2 linked regions of the Homo sapiens genome follow. The protein of the gene in region 2 purifies or fractionates together with the protein of the main gene of each other region. This does not show direct contact. Each region holds a gene or a part of one and is shown on either strand. Other genes may lie near its edges.

What was found.
Region 1: the proteins of TRPS1 (region 2) and BEND3 purify together in Homo sapiens (affinity purification with mass spectrometry; one large-scale study listed by BioGRID and IntAct). This does not show direct contact.

Annotation. Positions count from the first base shown.
Region 1 is NC_000006.12:107,070,450-107,074,102, reverse strand, and holds part of BEND3 (BEN domain-containing protein 3), read left to right. Parts: intron 1-3,152; coding exon 3,153-3,653. UniProt on the Homo sapiens protein: Transcriptional repressor which associates with the NoRC (nucleolar remodeling complex) complex and plays a key role in repressing rDNA transcription.
Region 2 is NC_000008.11:115,413,976-115,417,628, reverse strand, and holds part of TRPS1 (zinc finger transcription factor Trps1), read left to right. Parts: intron 1-2,544; coding exon 2,545-3,606; 3' UTR 3,607-3,653. UniProt on the Homo sapiens protein: Transcriptional repressor. Binds specifically to GATA sequences and represses expression of GATA-regulated genes at selected sites and stages in vertebrate development. Regulates chondrocyte proliferation and differentiation.

The DNA of each region.
Region 1 (3,653 bases), on a different chromosome or scaffold from region 2:
AGATAGACTCAGTGCTGTGTGTGCACTGTCTCCTTAAATCCTCACAACCACCCTGTGGGACAGGTAGCATGATTTACCCTGAGTAAAGGAAGGTGAGGCTTACAAGGTCACAAACAGAATGCTTGCTGATTGAGCTGAGTTCTTAGCCACACCTTCATGCCAGTGCTCTTATCAGAACAGCTCCTTTTCTTTTTTTTCTCCTTTTCTTTTTCTTTCTGAGACAGGGTCTTGCTCTGTTGCCCAGGCTGGAGTGCAGTGGTGTGATCTCAGCTTACGAAGCCTCAATCTCCCAGGCTGAAGCAATCCTCCTACCTCAGCCTCCCGAGTAGCTGAGACTACAGGCACACACCACCACTCCCAGCTTATTTTTGTAGAGGTGGGGTTTCACCATGTTGCCCAGGCTGGTCTTGAACTCCTGGGCTTGAGATCCCCTGCCTCAGCCTCCCAAAATACTGGGATTACAGGTGTGAGCCACTGCACCTGGCCTCACTTTTCTTAAGCATGTATTTGAGAATGGTGGAACACTTTGCCCTGCTTTATTCACGTGTGGTTGACAGAAATTCATTGACCTCTTCTGTACCCTGGGCACTTTGCTAGGCACTGGGGATAGACTCAGGAACAACGTGGTCCCATCGCACAACCATCATGCAGTTTGACAGGATGGGGACAGCTTGGCAAGGAGACCCCAGAGGGAGTGGGGCAGGTGGCTGGCCACCCCTGACAGGCTGCCTCCACTCTGGTATGTCCTTGGTCCTCTGCTCCTGTGAGTGCTGTAGAGGGGAGGGGTGGGGAGTGGGGTCCACAAGGGCCAGTTGCCACTGACCATTTGCTCACATACATATATATATATATATATATATATATATATATATATATATATATATATATATATATATATATACATACACATACAAACCCTGAAGGAAGTATTGGCCAGCTCTGTGATAACTAATGCACTTACGAGTCCCTTTATAAGGTCACTAAGGGAGTAGTTTTTCTTTTGCATGGTTGTCCTCATGGGGGCACAAGAGAAGAATTAACATTTCTCTAATATGAGTCAGATTATTCTATTATCCAAAAGAGAGAGTCTAGGAAGTAATTTATTAATTATTATTGAGATGGGGTCTCACTCTGTCACCCAGGCTGGGGTGCAGTGGCAAGATCTTAGCTCACTGCAGCCTCCATCTCCCAGGCTCAAGTTATCCTCCTACTTCAGCCTCCTGAGTAGCTGGGACTACAGGTGCACACTACTGTGCCAGGCTAATTTTTTTTGTATTTTTTTAGTAGAGACAGTGTTTCGCCATGTTCCCCAGGCTGGCGGAACTTCTGAGCTCAGGAGATCCACCCATCTTGGCCTCCCAAAGTGCTGGGATTACAGGCGTGAGCCACCACGCCCAGCCGTTCATTAATTTAAATGAAAAAGAACACATGGAAGGTTCAGAATGATGAAAGTTTTCTGTTTATTTGGGCTCTTGGTTTCTATTCCCCCTGGATCTGCCTATTCTCAGCCTCATATAGCTCACTTGCTGTACGAAGCCTCGCTTCTGAGGTTGTCTCTTTTCCCTACGTTGGCTGAGGCTGCAGAGAAAAACACCTCATGCACTGTTTTGTGCTGGCATTAGTTACCTGAAAACTTTCAAATAACCCTGATCTGCCTGGATGAGATAAACTGAGAGCAAACACTGACTGCCAAGCCCTGGCTACTCAGAGAGGATAGACAGCAGCCACAGCACCCAGGAGCTTATTAGAGATGCAGGCCCAGGGTTCACACTCTGCATTCCAGCAAGACCCCAGGTGATTCAGTGTGTACACTAGAGCTTAAGAAGCGCTGGGCTAGGCCAGTCCCAGCCACCTGTACTCTTCCCAAGTGTGGAGAGAAGCACCCCAGGATGCCGTTTGTTCTTGTCCATTCCCAGTTGCCCGAGGCACATGCCTGTCAGTGGGAGCAAAGGCTCCCTGCTCCCCCGACACCCACCAGCGCTCACTGACTAGCTCATCTGCTTTCCTAAAACTCAAATATACATTTACATAAGTATCTGGGTCGAATTCAACATTTGTCAAAAACAGGCTTATTAGGTTATGGCTGAAACTCAAAGAAGGATACATATTTAAGGTATACAATTTGATACGTTTTGACACGTGTCTACCAGTGAACCCACAGCCACAGTCATGATGATAAACATCTGTCACCCACTGACGTTCTCCATTTCATTCTCTGTGTCCCATCGAATTCTCCCTGCCATCCCTAGGCAATGACTATCTGCATTCTGTCACTATAGGCAAGCTTGCGTTTTCTAGAATTGTACATACACAAATGGAATCATACACTACGACCTCTTTTTTGTTATTTATTTTGAGATTTATCATGAGTACTTTGTGTACTGTATCAATAATATCTTATTGCTGAGTAATATTCCATTGTATGAATATAACATAGTTTATATACTTGTGGATTTTTCAGAAACGGGGGGTTGTTTCTACTGTCTCACAGTTGCACAGGCCAGAAAGTTCTGGGCCGGCTTTTTCTGGTCTAAGATGTGATTTCAGGCAGTGGTGGAGTTGGCATCAGACAGCCGCTCTCCACAGCCCAGTTCTCAGGTGCCCCGACCATGCATCCCAGATGAGCCTTCCCGAAAAGGGACGCCTGCTCTCCCAAAGGCTGCAGGCTAAAAGGACACACTGCTGCCTTTGGGAGCTACCATAGGTAGGAATCTCTGTCCCTTCCTGAGAGCAGACGAAGGCACGGGTCCATGGGGTGACCTGCCCGTGGCCGGCAGCTGCACAAGCCCGTTGCCTTCCTATGCTCTTCCTCCTGTTTCTTGCAGAGTTCTTGCCCAGTATTGCCAGCATCAGTGTCAGCCCTCTGACGGAAAGGAAGTCCACTGCTGGTGCCCTGTGAGAGCGCAAAGCCTCCCTGGGCCCAGCCTGAGTCTTTTCTCAGGGAATGGGGAGAGCAGCAGGTTTGGGGTGGTGGGGATGCAGGTTTGTATCAGTGGTGCATCCTTGGATGACAGAGTGATTCAGGGTGAGGAATCAGTTTCTTACATGCTCCCAAGGTTGACCTCGGCCTCTGTGTGCTACACAGACCCTTGTTTAGTGTCATAAACCACAGCACCCACCTAACACTCTGGGAAATGATTTTTGTTTTGCAGGCTCTCCTAGCAGGCATGCGGAACCGTGAGAACAGCTCGCCCTGCCAAGGCAATGGTGAGCAGGCCGGCAGGGGCAGGAGCCTGGGCAATGTGTGGCCTGGAGAGGAGGAGCCCTGCAACGATGCCACCACCCCTTCCTACAAGAAGCCTCTGTATGGCATCTCGCACAAGATCATGGAGAAGAAGAATCCTCCCTCGGGGGACCTGCTAAACGTGTACGAGCTCTTTGAGAAGGCAAACGCCAGCAACAGCCCCTCGTCACTGCGGCTCCTGAATGAGCCACAGAAGCGGGACTGTGGCAGCACCGGGGCAGGCACTGACAACGACCCCAACATCTACTTCCTGATCCAGAAGATGTTCTACATGCTGAACACCCTCACGTCCAACATGTCCCAGCTGCACAGCAAGGTGGACCTGCTCTCCCTTGAGGTGAGCCGCATCAAGAAGCAGGTGAGCCCCACTGAGATGGTGGCCAAATTCCAGCCGCCCCCTGAGTACCAG
Region 2 (3,653 bases):
GTAATAAAATTAAAACTCACAAATCCTCCATCTGAATATGGATTTGACTTACTGAAGGATTTTTTTTTTTAGTTTAGCAAGTTCATCTGCTGACAAGAGCTGACTTTAAAATAGGCATCCCCCATTTAGTAAACAAAAATTTATTTCCCTGTGCCTTTTTCATTTCGTTTGGCGTTTTACCATAGCTCTTAGCACAAGCCAGTGAATACATTATGGCTACAGGGAATACACTTTTAGACAAAATGTTCTCATATATGGACCATTAGAAGCACTCTTTAAAAAATGCATGCTGCTAACACTACTAATTGGCAGTAAACTGTAAAAACCTTAGTTATTAGCATGTAGCAAGTAGAAAGATTCCACCCCCCACCACATACCAACTTATTTTTTTTAACCTTCACCATTTAAGCATAGCAATAAGTTTCTATTTAATGGGAACTGACATTAATGATTTTAATTGAAGTCTGGCCAATCATAGGGCAAAAATTAATTAAAATACTGCTCTGCCAGATTATGGGAACTTAACCACTGAGATATAAACTAAACTATTTTCTAAAAATTATTTTAATATTCATCTCTCCAGAGGTAAGATGTTTTCAGTTTTCAGGTTTTTTAAAAAACCATACATTGAAATACATAAAGGTTATGTTCACATTTTGTGTCAAAAACTGACACAAAAGTTATGACAGTTTAAAAAAGGAATTTATGCAAATTTCAGGTTCTTTACAGTGTATAGATTAAATAATGCATATGTTTATAATGCTAATATGAACTCTTTGTAAACCTGGATATTCTGAGCAAAAGAAATGCACATGGCATAACTAAGCTATGTTGCATTTTCTTTCTTAAACTAACAATGAATTGTCAATAACAACTGTGTTATCTTTCTTCACTTGGAAGTATGTTTGTAACAACAGAAATGTTCCAAAAAGGATTTATAGTTGTACTTATTTAAGATACAAGAGGTACTCCCTTTCATTCAAGTGTATCACTTCTAGGAATAATTTACAAATTACACTTATATTTATGTTTTTTTAAATTTATATTATATTTATATTATTATAACATGTTTATGAATATTTATGTTTATATTTAAAATTTTATAATTTATAAAATTATACATTATATACACATAATGTATAATTTATAAAGTTAAATTTATAAATTATATTTATAGTCATGTTTTATGTGGAAATTATTTTCTGATTTCAGTAATCTTTTAGAAAAATCAGACTTTAGCCCATTTAAAGATTACCCTAAATTTTTAACCTATAAATACGCATTAATTTATCAAACTGATTCCTTTGATTTTATACATCAAAGAGCTCCAACTGCAAGTAAAGTTTTTATTATAGTCTTATCCATGGATTTAAGTCATATTATATAAATACCTGTTGAACATGTCCATAAATACCAATCATGTAACGTTTAAGCTAAACAAAATACTTAAGCTGAATGAAAGTTAGCACTTACTTTAAGTAAAGAGTAGAATGACAGATCAGATATTTAAACCAAAGCTACACATGAATTTAGATTTTCAACACAAAACTAATGCTTCACTATTAACAAGTAAAATCTTAGATCACAAATATAAAATATTATTAATGAGAGAGAAGTAGAAATGAGAAGAAAAAAAAAATCCCTCTCTATTGCTTTGATGACCTGATATCTTTCCTCACAATTCTGTCAGTTTATCTTTGATTATTTATGCTCTGATATTAATATTTTATATCCACATTTGCAATTATTTAGAAGCACGCATGTATTTGTTGCTTAGGTTTCCATAACAAAATACCATAAACTGAGCAGCTTTAAACAGCCGACATTTATGTTTTCACATTCTGAAGGCTAGAAATCTGAGATCAGGTTCCAGCATAGTTGGATTCTGAGGAGGGCTGTCTTCCTTACTAAGCCACCTTCTATCTGTGCCCTCACATAGTGGAGAGAGATCTCTTTCTCTTCCTCTTCTCATAAGGCCACAGCCCCATTGGATTAGGGCCCCACCCTTAACAACCTCATTTAACTTTAATTTCCTACTAAGGACCCTGTCTCCAGACACAGTCACACTGTGGTTTAGGGCTTCAACATATAAACTTATTCTGTCTGTAGCAATGTGTAATTTTTCCACTGTTAACAATATGTATCTCCTGTGTTACTCTTATATGCTGGCATTTTAGTGCACAACTCAAAAATTGAAAAAAAATTTCAGAAAAATCACATCTCTTCAAGTGACTTTCTACACCGTTTCATCACTAAATGATGCAATCTCAAAATCTGTTGCATCTGGAAAGGTTATTTTCAAGTAGATTAAAGTTTTCAGTCCCCCCTGCAAAGATGGACATGATTTAATTAGGCTAAAATAGTGCACTTTGGTTACTTCCTCTGATCCTGCTTAGGGCAAAAGGAGGAGATTTAGTAAATCTACAGCAGAAAGCCTATCCCTGCTTTGAACTTAAGCATGGTTTATATTTGTGAGGAATTTTTAATGCATTTTAATGTATTTTTTAATGTTTTCCTTTTATGTATTGTATGTGTTCTCTGCAGACTCCCAGGCCTTTAAACATCATTAAACAAAACAACGGTGAGCAGATTATTAGGAGGAGAACAAGAAAGCGCCTTAACCCAGAGGCACTTCAGGCTGAGCAGCTCAACAAACAGCAGAGGGGCAGCAATGAGGAGCAAGTCAATGGAAGCCCGTTAGAGAGGAGGTCAGAAGATCATCTAACTGAAAGTCACCAGAGAGAAATTCCACTCCCCAGCCTAAGTAAATACGAAGCCCAGGGTTCATTGACTAAAAGCCATTCTGCTCAGCAGCCAGTCCTGGTCAGCCAAACTCTGGATATTCACAAAAGGATGCAACCTTTGCACATTCAGATAAAAAGTCCTCAGGAAAGTACTGGAGATCCAGGAAATAGTTCATCCGTATCTGAAGGGAAAGGAAGTTCTGAGAGAGGCAGTCCTATAGAAAAGTACATGAGACCTGCGAAACACCCAAATTATTCACCACCAGGCAGCCCTATTGAAAAGTACCAGTACCCACTTTTTGGACTTCCCTTTGTACATAATGACTTCCAGAGTGAAGCTGATTGGCTGCGGTTCTGGAGTAAATATAAGCTCTCCGTTCCTGGGAATCCGCACTACTTGAGTCACGTGCCTGGCCTACCAAATCCTTGCCAAAACTATGTGCCTTATCCCACCTTCAATCTGCCTCCTCATTTTTCAGCTGTTGGATCAGACAATGACATTCCTCTAGATTTGGCGATCAAGCATTCCAGACCTGGGCCAACTGCAAACGGTGCCTCCAAGGAGAAAACGAAGGCACCACCAAATGTAAAAAATGAAGGTCCCTTGAATGTAGTAAAAACAGAGAAAGTTGATAGAAGTACTCAAGATGAACTTTCAACAAAATGTGTGCACTGTGGCATTGTCTTTCTGGATGAAGTGATGTATGCTTTGCATATGAGTTGCCATGGTGACAGTGGACCTTTCCAGTGCAGCATATGCCAGCATCTTTGCACGGACAAATATGACTTCACAACACATATCCAGAGGGGCCTGCATAGGAACAATGCACAAGTGGAAAAAAATGGAAAACCTAAAGAGTAAAACCTTAGCACTTAGCACAATTAAATAGAAATAGGTTTTCTTGATGG